Linked DNA regions of Homo sapiens: region 1 is linked to region 2. Evidence: fine-mapped expression QTL. A gene starts in region 2. The other region holds a variant in brackets. All regions are shown on one strand. Distances are between the middles of the regions.

Evidence for each region. PIP is the estimated chance that this variant, and not a neighbour inherited with it, causes the effect.
Region 1: its variant is fine-mapped to the expression of SDF2 in unexposed skin (GTEx, PIP 0.95).

What each region holds. Positions count from the first base shown.
Region 1 is chr17:28,843,088-28,852,487 of GRCh38, forward strand. It overlaps a transcript of FAM222B not described here. Among named protein-coding and RNA genes, the nearest start is that of FAM222B, 5.0 kb to the left of the region's middle. RefSeq lists a silencer at 5,724-5,773. The variant G/A (reference allele first, on the strand shown) is at 4,230.
Region 2 is chr17:28,656,819-28,666,218 of GRCh38, forward strand. SDF2 (stromal cell derived factor 2) reads right to left here and starts at 5,088. Exons shown (of 3, transcript NM_006923.4): 1 at 4,908-5,088. The coding sequence starts at 5,058. SUPT6H (SPT6 homolog, histone chaperone and transcription elongation factor) reads left to right here and starts at 5,387. Exons shown (of 37, transcript NM_003170.5): 1 at 5,387-5,524. RefSeq lists enhancers at 4,775-5,974, 5,336-5,405, 5,503-6,177.

The sequences.
Region 1 (9,400 bases), 190 kb after region 2:
AAGGCCTGAATTCAGGTGCTCTGAGGTGACCACTGATGATAAATTTGGGTCTTTTTTTTTTTTTTTCTGAGTCGAAGTTTCGCTCTTGTTGTCCAGGTTGGAGTGCAATGGCGTGATCTCGGCTCAAACAACCTCCGCCTCCCGGGTTCAAGCGATTCTCCTGCCTCAGCCTCCCGAGTAGCTGGGATTACAGGCATGCACCACCACGCCCAGCTAATTTTGTATTTTTAGTAGAGACGGGGTTTTATCATGTTGGTCAGGCTGGTCTCGAACTCCCGACCTCAGGTGATCCACCCACCTCAGCCTTCTAAAGCGCTGGGATTACAAGCATGAGCCACCGCGCCCAGCCTGGGTCTTTTTTTTTTTTTTTTTTTTTTGAGACGGAGTTTTGCTCTTGTTGCCCAGGCTGGAGTGCAGTGGCGCGATCTCAGCTCACTGCAACCTCCGCCTCCCGGGTTCAAACGATTCTCCTGCCTCAGCCTCCTGACTAGCTGGGATTACAGGCTTGCACCACCACGCCTGGCTAACTTTTGTATTTTTAGTAGAGACGGGGTTTCACCATGTTGGCCAGGCTGGTCTCGAACTCCTGACCTCAGATGATTCGCCCGCCCCGGCCTCCCAAAGTGCTGGGATTACAGGCCTGAGTCACCATGCCTGGTAAAATTTGGGTCTCTTTCAAGATGATCGTGTCTAGAATGTATCGGGGGTAATTATGTAAAGGCAGCTTTGCCATCCTAGAATACGCTACTAGCTAGGAGGTGCAATGAAGTCCTGGGGACCTTGTCAAGGAGGTGACCTCGCCTAGAATGCACTGGGGACACCGCTAAGTTCAGTATGTTTATCAAGCACATGCTGTTTATTGGACAGAAATGTTCTAGGCATCGCGTGTATGCTATTGAGGAATTCGCAGGCAAATAGTCCCCTGCTTTCCAGCTCTCACTGTGAGCCTGGCCCTTTTTCAAACTGGTAAAAGAAAACCACTAAAGTCCAGTGAGGCCCAACTGTCAGTCCCTAGACTACTGTGCTGCTTTGGCATAGCCTGACAAGAGACTAAGCTCAATCGAGTCCTGAGAATTCAACAAAACAGACTTGAAAGCAGCAGGCAAGAGGAGGTACAGGACTAAACTCTCTCCTCATCACCATGGCTCTTTTTTCTCTCTCAACTCCAGCGCTGGTCTCCTCTCTTCAGAGTTTGGACACATAAGGCCCAAGATACAACGTAAGGGGGAAAAAGAGAAGAAAAAAAGACAAGTTGAGTGCTCAATGAGGAATGTTAAAAAAATTTAAATAGGCCAGGTGCAGTGGCTCACGCCTGTAATCCCAGCACTTTGGGAGGCCGAGGCGGGCGGATCATGAGGTCAGGAGATCGAGACCATCCTGGCTAACACGGTGAAACCCCGTCTCACTAAAAATACAAAAAATTAGCCGGGCGTGGTGGCGGGCGCCTGTAGTCCCAGCTACTCAGGAGGCTGAGGCAAGAGAATGGCGTGAACCCGGGAGGCGGAGCTTGCAGTGAGCCGAGATCAAGCCACTGCATTCCAGCCTGGGCGACAGAGCGAGACTCCGTCTCAAAAGAAAAAAAAATTAAAAATAAAGCTGGGCATAGTGACTTATGCTTGTAATCCCAACATTTTGGGAGGCCAGGTTGGGAGGATTGCTTGAGCCCAGGAGTTAGAGACCAGCCTGGGCAACATAGGGAGACTCATCTCTACAAAAAATCTAAAAAATAGTGGCCAGGCAAGATAGCTCATGCCTGTAAACCCAGCACTTTGGGAGGTTAAGGCGGGCGGATCACTTGAAGCCAGGAATTCGAGACCAGCCTGGCCAACACGGTGAAACCCTGTCTCTACTGAAAAAATACAAAAATTATCTGGGCATGGTGGCATGCACCTGTAGTCCCAGCTACTCAGGAGGCTGAGGCAGGAAAATCGCTTGAACCCAGGAACGGAGGTTACAATGAGCCGAGATCGCACCACTGCACTCCAGCCTGGATAACAGAGTGAGACTCCATCTCAATTAAAAAAATAAATAGGGCCGGGCGCGGTGGCTCAGGCCTGTAATCCCAGCACTTTGGGAGGTCGAGGTGGGCGGATCACGAGGTCAGGAAATCGAGACCATCCTGGCTAACACGGTGAAACCTCATCTCTACTAAAAATATAAAAAATTAGCCGGGCATGGTGGCGGGCCCCTGCAGTCCCAGCTACTTGGGAGGCTGAGGCGGGAGAATGGCGTGAAGCCCGGAGGCAGAGCTTGCAGTGAGCCAAGACGGTGCCACTGCACTCCAGCCTGGGGACAGAGCGAGACTCCATCTCAAAAAAAAAAAATACAAAAATACAAAAAAATTGGCTGGGCGTGGTGGTGGGCGCCTGTAGTCCCAGCTACACGGGAGGCCGAGGCAGGAGAATGGCATGAACTGGGAAGCGGAGCTTGCAGTGAGCCGAGATCGCGCCACTGCACTCCAGCCTTGGCGACAGAGCGAGACTCTGTCTCAAAAAAAAAAGGAAAAAAAGAAAAAATAAATAAATAGGCCAGGCACAGTGGGTCACACCTGTAATCCCAGCACTTTGGGAAGCCGAGGTGGGCAGATCATAAGGTCAGGAGATCGAGACCATTCTGGCTAACACGGTGAAACCCCATCTCTACTAAAAATACAAAAAATTAGCCGGGCATGGTGGCGGGTGCCTGTAGTCCCAGCTACTTGGGGGGCTGAGGTGGGACAATCAATTGAACCCGGGAGGTGGAGGTTGTAGTGAGCCAAGATTGCGCCACTGCAATCCAGCCTGGGTGACAGAGCAAGGCTCCATCTCAAAAAGAAAAATAAATAAATAAATAAGGGTTGGGCCTGGTGGCTCACGCCTGTAATCTCAGCACTTTGGGAGGCCAAGGCGGGTGGATCACGAGGTCAGGAGATCGAGACCATCCTGGCTAACACGGTGAAACCCCGTCTCTACTAAAAATACAAAAAATTAGCTGGGCATGGTGGCGGGCGCCTGTAGTCCCAGGTACACAGGAGGCTGAGGCAGGAGAACGGCGTGAACCCAGGAGGTGGAGGTTGCAGTGAGCCGAGACCATGCCACTGCACTCCAGCCTGGGCGACAGAGCAAGACTCCATCTCAAAAAAAAAAAAAAAAATTAGCTGGATGTGGTGGTGCACACCTGTGGTCCCACCTACTTGGGAGGCTGAGGTGGGAGAATCACTTGAACCCAGGAGGCAGAGGTTGCAGTGAGCCTAGACTACACTACACCGCAGCCTAAGGAACCGAGTGAGACTGTGTCTCAAAAAAATTTTTTTAATTAAAAAAAAAATGTTCAGGCCAGGTACGGTGACTCACGCCTGTAATGTCATCACTTTGGGAGGTGGAGTAGGCGGAGTTTGAGACCAAGCTGGGCCACATGGTGAAAACCCGTCTGTACAAAAAAATTACCAAAAAATTAGCCGGGTGTGGTGGCCCGCATCTGTAGTCCCAGCTACTTGGGAGGCTGAAGAGCGAGGATTGCTTGGGTCTGGGAGGCGGAGGTTGCAGTGAGATTCAACCATTGCACTCCAGCCTAGGGGAGCCAGACTCCATCTCAGTAAGAATAAAATTTTCCTCTTAAAAAAGAAAAGAAAATCCTCTATTAACCCCACAGCCCTCTCCTGCTCAATATTGGTCCTCAATATCCAAGGGTTCAGCATCTAGGAATTCAACCATCCGAAGAACAAAAATATCTGGGGAAAGGCCAAACGTGGTGTCTCATGCCTGTAAACTCAGCACTTGGGGAGGCCAAGGCAGAGGACCATTTGAGGCCAGGAGTTCGTGACCAGCCTGGGCAACGTAGTGAGACTCTGTCTCTGCAAAAGATTTAAAAATTAGCGCTGGGCGTGGTGGCTGACGCCTGTAATCCCAGCACTTTGGGAGGCCTAGGTGGGTAGATCACCTAAGGTCAGGAGTTCGAGACCAGCCTGACCAACATGGAGAAACCCCATCTCTACTAAAAATACCAAATTAGCCGGGCATGGTGGAACATGCCTGTGATCCCAGCTACTCGGGAGGCTGAGGCAGGAAAATCGCTTGAACCCCAGAGGCACAGGTTGCAGTGAGCCGAGATAGTGCCATTGCACTCCAGCCTGAACGACAGAGACTCCGTCTCAAAAGAAAAAAAAAAGAAAAAGAAAAAATCTAAAACTTCCGTGACCCCAAGTTACAAGGTGTAACTTTATCTTCCTTACTAAAATAGTGTAGTGGGCC[G/A]TGCGTGGTGGTTCATGCCTATAGTCCCAGCACTTTGGGAGGCTGAGGCAGGCGGATCACGAGGTCAGGAGTTCGAGGCCAGTTTGGCCAACATGGAGAAACCCCATCTCTACTAAAAATACAAAAAATTAGCCGGGCATTGTGGCGGAAGCCTGTAATCCCACCTACTCCGGAGGCTAAGGCAGGACTATTGCTTGAATCTGGGAAGTGGAGGTTGCAGTGAGCCGAGATCGTGCCACTGCACTGCAGCCTGGGCGACAGAGAAGGACTCTATCTCAAACATAAATAAATAAATTAATTAAATAAAGAAAAACAAGGCCGGGCGCGGTGGCTCACTCCTGTAATCCCAGCGCTTTGGGAGGCCGATGTGGGCAGATCACGAGGTCAGGAGATCGAGACCATTCTGGCTAACATGGTGAAACCCCGTCTCTACTAAAAATACAAAAAATGAGCCGGGCGCCATGGCGGGCGCCTATAGTCCCAGCTACTCCGGAGGCTGAGGCCGGAGAATGGTGTGAACCCGGGAGGCGGAGCTTGCAGTGAGCCGAGATAGCGCCACTGTACTCCGGCCTGGGCGAAAGAGCGAGACTCCGCCTCAAAAAAAAAAAAAAGAAAAGAAAAGAAAGAAAGAAAACAAAATAGTGTAGTGAAGATGAAGGAGAGAGAAGCAGATGGAGCCTGCGCATGTTGGCTCACATCTGAAATCCCAACACTTTGGAAGGCTGAGGTGGGTGACTTGAACCCTAGAGCGGTGTCTGGCACATAGCAAGTACTCAATAGATTTTTGTTCAGGAGCGAATAAATGACATCTTTCTCTGGGTTGGCTCTCCCCTTCTGGTATCAACATGACTGCAGCAGCTCCAGATATTATGTCTTCTTACATCCAGCTCCAGTGGGAAAGAAGCAAAATTCTCCTTGTACGTTTTATCTCCCTGGGTTATGTGCCCATCTCTAAAACAATCATCATGGGCTAGAGAATGTTATACGCTGATTGAGTTGGTTCCGAGTTGTGTGCTCCTTGCCTGGGGTGAGCCTCATCCAACCACATGGTCTGAGTTTGCAGTAGGGGTGTTTCTATGGATAACTATATTGTATATAATGAATTAATGATTGGCAGGGGAAAAATCCACTATTCTGCCCTTGGTAAGAAATTCAAGTAGGGGCCCGGGCACGGTGGCTCACGCCTGTAATCGCAGCACTTTGGGAGGCTGAGGAAGGTGGATCACGAGGTCAGGAATTCAAGACCAGCCTGGCCAAGGTGGTGAAAGTGTGTCTCTACTAAAAATAAAAAAATTAGCCGGTGTGGTGGTGGCTACCTGTAATCCCAGCTACTTGGGAGGCTGAGGCAGGAGAATCGCTTGAACCAGGGAGGCGGAGGTTGCAGTGAGCCAAGATCGGGCCACTGCACTCTAGCCTGGGCGACAGAGCAAGACTGTCTCAAAGAAAGAAAAAAAGAAATTCAAGTAGGGAAATGGCTCAGAAGACCCGCAGTGGTTCAAATATAGGAATATATGTTGTTGTCATATAGTCTCCAGCAGGGGGCGCCACCTTCCCCTCTCCCCTGGGAGCCAAGAGTCTAGACTGGGCCACCAGCCCATACCCCTAGTCCTGGCAGCACTGATTCCCCACCAGAACTGAGCTCATGTTAAGTGGGGGATGACCCGGCCGGGCGCGGTGGCTTACGCCTATAATCCCAGCACTTTGGGAGGCCGAGGCGGGAGGATCACGAGGTTAGGAGATCGAGACCATCCTGGCTAACATGGTGAAATCTCGTCTCCACTAAAAATACAAAAAATTAGCCGGGCGTGGTGGCGGGCACCTGTAGTCCCAGCTACTGGGGAGGCTGAGGCAGGAGAATGGCGAGAACCCGGGAAGCGGAGCTTGCAGTGAGCCGAGATTGCGCCACTGCACTCCAGCCTGGGAGACAGCGAGACTCCGTCTCAAAAAAAAAAAAAAAAAGTGGGGGATGACCCAAGAAAGCACTGTAATTGACACTTAGCGATTTTCTACTCTTCGGACCCGGGGCCATGGAGCCTTGAGTAGAGTTGTTTTTTTTAAATCAGCATATCAACTTATTTTCTCTTCTACCCCAATTCCTTCCCTGCTATTCTCTACACTCCAGGAACTCACCAGCAGGGAGCAGGCCGCAGCTAATTTTGGTACCACTTAAGGGTTGCCCATTCTGGCCCCCCTTCTACTCTCTCACCCTCAAATCTTTGTATCTGGAGTGTTTTCTTCCAAGAAGCTGCAACACCCAAGGTTGGTAACTCTCATAACCAACCCACACAAGCGCCCACCTCCTCTTTAGGAAGTGGCCAAATTTGGCATTTTTTTCATTACAGCCTGCCATTCCTAGATGTTTTCTACATTAAAGAAGAAGAAAAAAAATCACTGTTTTCTCCTTAACTTCAAGCTACCACTCTCTCCTCTTTCCCTATAAGGGAAGAGAAAACAAAAAGTTGAAATGTAAAAATTCCCCTCCTCACCAGGCGCAGTGGCTCACGCCTGTAATCCCAGCACTTTGGGAGGCCGAGGAGGGCGGATCACCTGAGATTGGGAGTTCGAGACCAGCCTGACCAACATGGAGAAACCCCGTCTCTACTAAAAATACAAAAAATTAGCCAGGCGTGGTGGCGCATGCCTGTAATCCCAACTACTCAGGAGGCTAAGGCAGGAGAATCACTTAGAACCCAGGAGGCAGAGGTTGCAGTGAGCCGAGGTCATGCCATTGCACTCCAACCTGGCCAACAAGAGTGAAACTCTGTCTCAAAAAAAAATTCCCCCTCCTCCCATTATTTAAGCTATTGTCCTATTGTCATCACTCTCTTCTCTGCCCCATAAAGCTGTGAAGCCCTTTGCCTCACTCTTGATAGCATGAGGGGCCAGCGGGCAGGGATTGCGATTTGAATTTCTGAACTGTTTTTCCTTCCACTCTGGGTACTTGCTCAGGCATTGGAGTCTCCTCACCCTTGGCCATATGAGTTTCTTTTTTTTTTTCTTTTTAAGACAGAGTCTTGCTCTGTCGCCCGGGCTGGAGTGCAGTGGTGCGATCTCGGCTCACTGCAAGCCCCGCTTCCTGGGTTCACGCCATTCTCCTGCCTCAGCCTCCCAAGTAGCTGGGACTACAAGTGCCTGACACCACGCCCGGCTTTTTTGTATTTTTAGTAGAGACAGAGTTTCACCGTGTTAGCCAGGATGGTCTCGATCTCCTGACCTTGTGATCCGCCCACCTCGGCCTCCCGAAGTGCTGGGATTAGAGGCTTGAGCCACCGCGCCCGGCCGGCCACATGAGTTTCTTTAGAATCCTTTGGTCAACTGGGACCTTGATTTTGAAACAGTTTAGTCTCGGGTATTTTTGTTCTGTTTGTTCTGTTTGTAGGTTCTGTCTGTTTGCCTATTTTCTTCTGTCTGTCGGTTTTTGTTGTTTTCATCATTGTGGTTCTAGAAACTTCTCGTGTGCAGTGTCTGACCAATTTTGAACAGGTTCTTTCTATAAAAATCAAAAATTGTAAAAAAATGTTCCGCCAGGCATGGCAGCTCACACCTGTAATCCCAACGCTTTGGGAGGCCAAGGTGGGCAAATCACAAGGTTAGGAGTTTGAGACAAGCCTGGCCAATATGGTGAAACCCCGTCTGTACTAAAACTACAAAAATTAGCCGGGCTTGGTGGGGTGCGCCTGTAATCCCACCTACTCAGGAGGCTGAGGCAGAAGAATTGCTTGAACCCAGGAGGTGGAGGTTGCAGTGAGCTGAGATCGCACCGCTGCACTCCAGCCTGGGCGACAGAGGGAGACTCCATCTCAAAACAAAACAAAACAAAACAAAAAAATGTTCCAAGGCTAGGGGCAGTAACTCACACCTGTAATCTCAGCACTTTGGGAGGTCAAAGCAGATGGCTTACTTGAGCCCAGGAGTTCAAGACCAGCCTGGGCCAAGCCAGGCATGGTGGCTCACACCTGTAAGCCCAGCACTTTGGGAGGCCGAGGTGGGTGGATCACCTGAGGTCAGGAGTTCGAGACCAGCCTGGCCAACATGGTGAAACCCCATCTCTACTAAAAATACAAAAAATTAGCCGGGCGTGGTGGCAGAAGACTGTAACCCCACCTACTTGGGAGCCTGAGGCAGGAAAATAGCTTGAACCCGGGAGGCAGAGGTTGCAGTGAGCCAAGATCATGCCATTGCACTCCAGCCTGGGAGTCTCAAACGAACAAACAAACAAACAAAAGACCAACCTGGGCAACATGGTGACAGCCTGTCTCTATAAAAAATACAGAAATTAGGCTAGGTGCAGTGACTCATCCCTGTAATCCCAGCACTTTGGGACGCCAAGGCGGGCAGATCACCGGGTCAGGAGTTTGAGACCAGCCTAGCCAACATGGCGAAACCCTGTCTCTACTAAAAATACAAAAATTAGCCAGTGTGGTGGCGGGCACCTGTAATCCCAGCTACTCGGGAGGCTGAGCCAGGAGAATCACTTGAACCAGGGAGGTGGAGGTTGCAGTGAGCTGAGATCGCACCACTGCACTCCAGCCTGGGCAATGAGAAAGACTCCATCTCAAAAAAAAAAAAAAAACCAAAAACAGAAATTAGCTGGGCGTGGTCAGGCACATCTGTAGTCCCAGCTACCTGGGAGGCTAAAATGGGGGAATCACCTGAGCCCAGGAGGTGGAGGTTGCAGTGCGCCAAAATTAAACCACTACACTCCAGCTCAGACAACAGAGTGAGACTGTGGCTCAAAAAAATTTTTTTTTAATTAAAAAAAGCAACGTGGCCTGGCGCGGTGGCTCACGCCTGCAATCCTAGCACTTTGGGAGGCCAAGGCGGGTGGATCACGAGGTCAGGAGATCGAGACCATCCAGGCTAACACAGTAAAACACCGTCTCTACTAAAAATACAAAAAATTAGCCGGGCATGGTGGTGGGCGCCTGCAGTCTCAGCTACTCGGGAGGCTGAGGCAGGAGAATGGCCTGAACCCGGGAGGCAGAGCCAAGATCGTGCCACTGCACTCCAGCCTGGGCGACAGAGCGAGACTCTGTCTCCAAAAAAAAATGTTCAGGCCAGGTACAGTGACTCACGCCTGTTATCTCAGCACTTTGGGAGATGGAGTAGGCAGAGTTCAAGACCAACCTGGAATACATGGTGAAACCCCATCTGTACAAAAAAATTACCAA
Region 2 (9,400 bases):
TGTTCATTAACTATTATGATAAAAATTTTTGTATTTCACAATTAAAATGAGACTATGTTGCCAACTTTAAGCAGCCATTACAGCTCCCAACTCCCATAAGTGGTCAATTATTATAAACGTATTATTTAAGCAAGGCACGGTGGCTCACGCCTGTAATCCCAGCACTTTGGGAGGCTGAGGCAGGCAGAACACAAAGTCATGAGTTCGAGACCAGCCTGGCCAATATGGTGAAACCCCGTCTCTACTAAAAATATAAAAATTAGCTGGGCGTGGTCGCATGTGCCTGTAATCCCAGCTACTTGGGAGGCTGAGGCAGAAGAATTGCTTGCATCCGGGAGGCGGAGGTTGCAGTGAGCCGAGATCACACCACCGCACTCCAGCCTAGGTGGCAGGGCAAGACTCTGTCTCAAAACAAAAACAAAAACAAAACAAAAAATGTATCCTTGGAGGTCTGGCACAGTGGCTCATGCCTGTAATCCAAGCGCTTTGGGAAGGTGAGGGGAGGATCCCTTGAGTCCAGGAGTTCGAGACTAGCCTCAGCAACATAGCAAAATGCAGTCTCTAAACGTACATATATATATATGTATTTTTTTTTTTTGATACAGGATCCCTCTTGTCACTCAGGCTGGAGTGCAGTGGCACGATCACAGCTCGCCACAGCCTTGACCTCCCAGGCTCGGGTGATCCTCCTACCTCAGCCTCCCAAGTAGCTGGGATTTCAGGCGCCTGCCACCACACCTGGCTAATTTTTCTATTTTTTGTAGAGATGGGTTTTTGCCATGTTGCCCAGGCTACTCTCGAATTCCTGGGCTCAAGCAATCCAACTGCCTCAGCCTCCCAAAGTGCTAGGATTACAGATGTGAGCCACCACACCCAGCCTAAAAAAAAATTTTTATATTTAAAAGAAAAAAAAGAAGCTGGGCACAGTGGCTCACCGTCAATCCCAGCACTTTGGGAGGTCAAGGTGGGCAGATCGCTTGAGCCCAGGAATTCAAGACCAAGCCTAAGCAACTGACAAAACTCCATCTCTACAAAAGATGCAAAAAATTAATCAGGTGTGGTGGGGTGCACTTGTAGTCCCAGCTACTCAGGACGCTGAGATGTGAGGATTGCTTGAGCCCAGGAGGTCAAGGCTGCAATGAGTCGTAATTGTGTCACTGCCAGTTACACGGGTAAATGTAGCCAACTATCAGCTCCTTTCATGACTTTATTATATCTTTTTTCAGAAAAGGCAAACCAAGTCTCCCTTCCTACTTCTGGTTACTGCCTTACAGCTCTCTGGGTCCTCACAGCCACGCTTCACTAAACCATGGTCTACATTTTGTCTCCTACATTTTCTGCTTTCTATTCAACCGTTCACTTCTTCCTCCAAATCCTTATACCTTGGGATTATCCAAAGTTCTATGCCTGGCCTTCATCTGTTTCTACCTGTAGTTTTTTTTTTTTTTTTTAGTATTTATTGTTCATTCTTGGGTGTTTCTCGGAGAGGGGGATGTGGCAGGGTCACAGGATAATAGTGGAGAGAAGGTCAGCAGATAAACATGTGAACAAAGGTCTCTGGTTTTCCTAGGCAGAGGTCCCTGCGGCCTTCCGCAGTGTTTGTGTCCCTGGGTACTTGAGATTAGGGAGTGGTGATGACTCTTAACGAGCATGCTGCCTTCAAGTATCTGTTTAACAAAGCACATCTTGCACCACCCTTAATCCATTTAACCCTGAGTTGACACAGCACACGTTTCAGAGAGCACGGGGTTGGGGGTAAGGTTATAGATTAACAGCATCCCAAAGCTGAAGAATTTTTCTTAGTACAGAACAAAATGGAGTCTCCTATGTCTACTTCTTTCTACACAGACACAGTAACAATCTGATCTCTCTTTCTTTTCCCCACATTTCCCCCTTTTCTTTTCGACAAAACCGCCATCGTCATCATGGCCCATTCTCGATGGTCGCTGTCTCTTCGGTGCTGTTGGGTACACCTGCAGAAAGGCTGTCACTTCACACTTGGAAGACTGCACAGCGGCCAGGCAGAGGCGCTCCTCACTTCCCAGACGGGGCGGCCGGGCAGAGGCACTCCTCACTTCCCAGACAGGGTGGCCGGGCAGAGGAGCTCCTCACTTAACAGACTGGGTGGCCGGGCAGAGGCGCTCCTCACATCCCAGACGATGGGAGGCCGGACAGAGGCGCTCCTCCCCTCCCAGACGGGGCGGCCGTGCAGAGGCGCTCCTCACTTCCTAGATGGGACAGCCAGGCAGAGGTGCTCCTCAACTCCCAGACGAAGGGCGGCCGGGCAGAGGCGCTCCTCACATCCCAGACAATGGGCGGCCGGGCAGAGGCGCTCCTCACTTCCCAGACAGGGTGGCGGCCGGGCAGAGGCGCTCCTCACATCCCAGACGGGGTGGCGGCCAGGCAGAGGCGCTCCCCACTTCCCAGACGGGGCGGCTGGGCAGAGGCGCTCCCCACTTCCCAGACGGGGCAGCCGGGCAGAGGCGCTCCCCACTTCCCAGACAGGGCGGCCGGGCAGAGGCGCTCCCCACTTCCCAGACGGGGCAGCCGGGCAGAGGCGCTCCCCACTTCCCAGATGGGGTGGCGGCCGGGCAGAGGCGCTCCTCACATCCCAGACAGGGCGGCCAGGTGCTCCCCACTTCCCAGATGGGGTGGCCGGGCAGAGGTGCTCCTCACCTCCCAGATAATGGGCAGCCCACTTCCCAGATGGGGTGGCAGCCGGGCAAAGGCACTCCTCACATCCCAGATGGCGCGGCCGGGCAGAGGCGCTCCTCACTTCCCAGACGGGGCGGCCAGGCAGAGGCGCTCCTCACTTCCTAGACAGGGCGGCCAGGCAGAGACGCTCCTCACATCCCAGACAGGGTGATGGCCGGGCAGAGGTGCTCCTCACTTCCCAGACGGGGTGGCGGCCGGGCAGAGGCCCTCCTCATATCCCAGACGGGGCGGCCAGGCAGAGGCGCTCCTCACATCCCAGACGATGGGCGGCCAGGCAGAGACGCTCCTCACTTCCTAGACGGGGTGGCGGCCGGGCAGAGGCTGTACTCTTAGCACTTTGGGAGGCCAAGGCAGGCGGCTGGGAGGTGGAAGTTGTAGTGAGCCAAGATCACACCACTGCACTCCAGCCTGGGCAACACTGAGCACTGAGTGAGCAAGACTCCATCTGCAATCCCAGCACCTCGGGAGGCTGAGGCAGGCAGATCACTCGAGGTCAGGAGCTGGAGACCAGCCCAGCCAACACGGCGAAACCCCGTCTCCACCAAAAATACGAAAACCAGTCAGGCATGGCGGCGTGTGCCTGCAATCCCAGGCACTCGGCAGGCCGTGGCAGGAGAATCACGGGAGCCCCAGGCAGGGAGGTTGCAGCGAGCCGAGATCACGGCAGTACAGTCCAGCCTCGGCAACAGAGGGAGACCGTGGAAAGAGAGAAGAGACAAGAGAGGGAGACGGAGAGGGCTACCTGTAGTTCTTAAACAATTGTTGAGGGTCAGGACAAAAGCATTTGTATTTTTAACAAGTTTCTCCAGTTATTCAAATTAATCCCAGATAGAGAATCACAGTTCATTCTGGGCAATTTCATCTACAACCCTGACATCTTCAACCACAGTCTGTACAAGATGTTATATTTAATGTTGTATCTCAGGCTCAGCACAGATCCCTTTTCTGAGCTCCGGACTGAACCTGGTTCCCAAATCTGGCTGTCCATCAGAACCACCTGAAGAGCTTTTTAAACCTACAGATTGCTACTGCCAAGCCTCTGTCCACCTCCACTCTAATTCAGTAGATCCAAAGTAGGAAACCAAAACAAAGTAAAAAATAAGCCTGACAACATGGTAGGTGTTCACTGAATGGGTGCTAGAATTATTAAGACATCGCAGTGATGATAACTCATGTCCTTGCCTAGTCTGACTGATCAGATGGGTTTTGGGAATCATGAACCAGACTAGCCCACCTGACAGAACTCTTTCCTCCCTCAGCAAACAGCATCATCAGTCATTCAAGACAAAAATCTACCAGCTATCTTAGATGCCTCTCACATCTCACTAGCTGACCTTCATTCTTTTTTTTTAACTTTATCTTTTTTTTTCAGGCAGATAAGACTTTCTTTTTTTAGTCTGTTTTTATTATATTGTAATTTTCTTGACTGATTATCACCACCGAATCTCCTGTATGTAGTACAATTCTAGCCATGTAGTAGGAACTCATTAAGACCTATGCTGAATGAATCCACAAATAATTTATTACTAAACATTTTAATTTCAAACGCTAAAAAAAAAAAAAAAAAAAAGCAGTTTTCTCTGCAATTCCTGTCACTGCTCCAAGTTTCTTACAAGAAGGAGGTTAAGGTTTGGGTAGAAGGGGGCCAAAGATGGAAACTGAGGAGCAAGTGTAAGATGCAGAAGAGCTGGAAGACAAAGGGTTGTAGTCAACGAGTGAGCTCTTGGAGTTTAAAGTTTCACAGACAGTACTTACTGTAACTTTAAAATTTCAGACACAGCACTTACTGTAATTTTCTTGTCTCTAAAGCAGGCTTTGAACCTGGATAGATTTGGATAGAACCCCGACTTTGTCATTTGCTAACTGCAAGGCTTTGAATAAACGATTTAATTTCTCTGCGTCTGTTTCCTCATCTGTGAAATGAGGATAACAATACTGTCCACCTTACAACAATGTTAATAATCGGAAAAAGGACATAGGTAACGTGCCTGGCCTGTAGCTCACCAAATATTAGGTGGTGTTGCGATTAAGATGCCTTAGAACAATTCAGTTCTCCGACTCTCTAGACCTGAGGAACCTTCCCAGGGAACCCCTAACTTTCCCAGACCACACTGTCAGATATTCTATAGGCCCCGCCCCTCCAGAGCCTCCGAGTCCTCCCTAGCCCACCCGAGCCCGGTCCCCAGCATTACCTGACCCATAGCGCACGTCGTGTGAGTGCAGTCGGACGTTGTGGCGCGTATTGAGTAGCTTCACCACGGAGCCGCAAGTAACGACACCCAGGCTGGACGCTCCCACAGCGCTCCACAAACCCCCCAACAACAGCAGAGGTACTACAGCCATCCTAACTGTATCGCGGAGCCCCAAATCTTCGAAGAAAACTCGGCCCCTCCCCGGAACCGGAAGCTAATGGCGAAACCACGGAGAGAAGGAAGTGAAGAAGCCCGAGTCTGATCTTTATGGTTTATTTGACTAGAGCGGCCTGAGAAACCGGCTGAGCCTGGTTACTTACGATACTCTCGCTCTGTTCCAGGGGCTCAGTGACAGCTGCCTTCCTGAGCCGCTTCGGTTACCTTTCGCACCCACGAGACGAAAGCTTCCGAGAGCGGGAGAGAGAACAAGAAATGGCCCGCCCACTCCCGGTGACAGGGAGCCGGAAATGACGTAGCACGTTGACGCAGCAGCGGCGGCGGTGGCGGCGGAGGGGCCGTGCGGTGGGTCCGTACTATCTTTTCCCAGTCTCGGTTCGACGACTCCATTTTCCTCGGTGGGGGCTTAGCGCACTGGAGGAGCGGCGGGCTTCAGACAGGTAAAGTTCCGACTGGAGAGCGTGTTTCTCGCAGGAGTCAGGTGGGGAACCGGGCTCCTAGGGCCTGGTCACGTAAGGGAAGAGGCAGTGGGGAGCCGTATGCGGGAAGAAGGGGGAGCCTGGCCTTCCCTGCTCTATGGGGGGAAGGGGGAGGAAAGCGCTGTAGTTGCTCAGAGTCCGAAAGCTTTTCCCAGCCCAGTGACACCCGGAACCCGTGAATCGGGTGGCACGTTGAATCAACAGGCTTCCTGGCATCCCGTCCTTCTCTCCGCAGGTTTTTAAAACTGGGCCACGCAAAAGGATTGGGGATGGAAGGGACCTGGGGCTTCTGAGCCAGGATCAGGTGATCGAGTTGTTTGTTCTGGGGATATGAATCCTGTGGAGCTTTCAGCAGCTCGGCCATCAGGCTAGAGGGCGATGCCAAATTCCAGCTCTTTACATATTGCTGAATAATACAAATAGAACTTTTTGTAGATGGTTGCATCCTTCATCCCTTTCTAAAGATCGAAGGTCTTGTAGAAGTCCTAAAGCCCGTCCATTCTCTATAGATTCATTTCCTCAAACGTTTGCCAGAGGCCTATCATGAACATCAAAATTAGTTATTAAGTCAAAACTCCATCTTCTAGTTTCTACCTTTCTCCTCAGGCACTCCTTTGAACCAGCTGGAGAAGTTAATTTTCCTGGGTTGTTGCAAGAACTGATACTTATTTCAGAGGGCTAAGATCTCTGAAAATACTTCCGTGGAAATTCACTGTAATATCAAAAGTAACAAGGGTGTATGAAGCTACATCATTAATGAGCATTAGGGAGTGTAAACAATATTGAATTTGATTAATTTCTTCGGAAAAATGTCTGGTTCCACTGTTTATCTGGAAGTTACCAGTTTGTAAGTCTTCAGTGTTTTGATTACAGAAACATAACTGCTCTTCCATCAGCTGTGAATTTAGAGCCCTTTTTTACGAGTAATGTCCCTTTCACCAGTACAAGTACATTTTTATTCACTTGGCTTGTGTGGCTGCTAGATTGGATTAGCATAGCCTTGCAACTCTAGGAGGTTTTAACTTCATCAGGAGATTAATTACATCAGAAAGTGGTACCGTCTGGAGAGGCTTAGTCAAATTTTACAGTTCTTCCTCTGAAAGCCTACCTAGTGTGGTGGAAACATGATCTTTGTAGGCAAATACGTTTGCCCTGATTCTATATTCTTGACCTTAATAAATGGCACTACCATCAGTCCTGCCTGTAATCCTTGTCTTCCTTCCTGTCCACTATTTCCCAATAAAATCAGTCACCAAATCCTGTCTCTCCCTGAAACTGTTCCCATCAGCATACAAATTATGTTCTGGTATCCTTCACATCCCTCTCCAATTACCATGCCAATTTTTTAAATTTCCATTCATAGATTTCTACCTGTACCAACTCAGCTTTCTCAACTTTCATTCACTCTTCATTTTATACCAATCTGGCTTCTCTTCTGCCCACTCCATTTTTTTTTTTTTTTTTGTGGAGACAGGGTCTTGCTCTGTTGCCCAGGTTGGAGTGCAGTGGCCCCATCATAGCTCACTGCCACCTGGAACTCCTGAGCTCAAGCAGTCCTCCTGAGGCAGCTTCTAGTAATCAAGTGCCACCACATCTACTTTGCCCACTCCATTGAAGTTGCTCTTATCAAGGTCACCAGTGACTTCTATGTTGCCAAATCCAATGGATACTTTGTTCTCATATTCCTCTGTCTCTGCAATATTCAACATAGTTACTCCTGCCTCCAAACTTTCATCTTGGCTTTATTGACATTTCACTCTTGGATTTTCTCCATTTCTCCGGCTGTTCCTTCTGAGTCTCATTTGCTAGCAACTTTTGCTCTCTATCTAATGTCTAAATGCTGGGGCTGGTCGCAGTGGCTCATGCCTATAATCCCAGCACTTTGGGAGGTCGAGGTGGGCAGATCACTTGAGGTCAGGAGTTCACAACCAGCCTGGCCAGCATGGTGAAACCCCATCTCTACTAAAAATACAAAAACTAGCCGGGCGTGGCGACACGCCTGTAATCCCAGCTACTTGGGAGGCTGAGGCAGGAGAATCACTTGAACCAGGGAGGCAGAGGTGCAGTGAGCAGAGATCATGCCACTGCACTCCAGCATGGGCAACAGAACAAAACTCCGTCTCAAAATATATGTATATCTACATATGTTGGAATTCTCACAGGAATCCCGAGCCTTCTACATGCTTCCCTTTAGGTAACCCAGCCCCATGGCTTTAATTACCACCTGAAAGTTGGCAACTCCAAAGTTTAAATCTCTAGTCCAGCCCTCTCCTCTATGTTGCAGAATCACGCGTCAAAAATGCCTGTTTAATTATCTCCATTTGGATATTTCTTAGGCACCCAAAGCTAACATAACCAAAAGAAAGTTTTGGTTTTCTCATCATTGCAAACCTTATCCTCCCGTTTCACTGAGTGGTGCTCCTATCCGCAGGGTTACCAAAGATAGACCTCTGAGAATCATCTTTGTTCTTCTCCTTTACTACTCCTCTTCCCCAGTCTTTCAGTAAGTCTTGTCACTTCCACTTGCAGAATGTTTTTGTAATCTGTCTTCTATTCTCCATCTTCACTTTTACCACCTTATTCCAAGCCACCACCATCTTTTGCCTGGGCTACCACAACAGTATCTTCAGTTTTCCCTGGTTTCCACTCAGATCTTCCTCCAGTTCATTTTCCATGTAACAGAATTGGATCAGGGCAGATCATGTCATTTCCCTACTTAAAACTCTCCAGTGACTTTCCATGGCCTTTACGCCCTGCTTGAGCATACCTCTCCCTCATAGGCTGCTGCCTTCACCATGCTCTAGTGCCATCAGCCTCAGGACATCACCTATTATATACCATGTTCTTGCCCACTTTCTCTACTGGAACCTCTCCTCCTACTTCTACAGGTCATATCCTACCTATTGACATCTCAGCCTAAGTAAACTCACTTTAGATGAGATGAGAATATGCATTTCCTTCTTCGCTTTTAGAGCAAGGTTTATTTTATTTGTTGCCAATATGTCTCCTGCACCAGAATACGGGCATCCTAGGGGCATGGACCTAGTCTTGTACGTGCCTGGCATGTGGTAGGCACTCATTAAATACATATTTATGCCAGGCATGGTGGTTCACGCCTATAATCCCAACACTTTGGGAGGCTGAGGCAGGCGGATCACCTGAGGTCAGGAGCTCGAGCCCAGGCTGGCCAACATGGTGAAACCCCGTCTCTGTTAAAGATACAAAGAAAAAATTAGCTGGACGTGGTGGTGGGTGCCTGTAATCCCAGCTACTTGGGAGGCTGAGGCAGGAGAATTGCTTGAACCTGGGAGGCGGAGGTTGCAGTGAGCTGAGATCGTGCCACTACACTCCAAGCCTGGGCAATGGAGCGAGACTCTGTCTCAAAAAAACGTATATGTATATGTATATGTATTTGTCCTAGCTACCTGGGAGGCTGAGGTGAGATTATGGCTTGAGCCCAGGAGGTGGAGGCTGCAGTGAGATGTAATCACACCACTGCACTCCAGTCTGGGTGACAGAGCAGGACCCCATCTCAGAAAATAATAAGTTTTTGTTGGATTAGCAAGTAGATTAAGTTCAGTTCTACATTTAAAACCCTGCAATGGCTTCCCAGTGCCTAGATCCTTATGACTTCTCCAACCCTTATGAACCATTCTTCCTCTCCTGGGCCTTCTCTGTACCTGCCACAGTACACGTGTTGTGCTAGAAGCACACGTCTCTGACATCACTCCCCAAACCATCTCCAAAGAAGCCAGCTCCTCTGCTGAACTAATTCCTCCTTACTCTTAAGGTCTTTGTTTAAAGTCACTTCCTCAAAACCAGGTTAGGTTGTCTTAT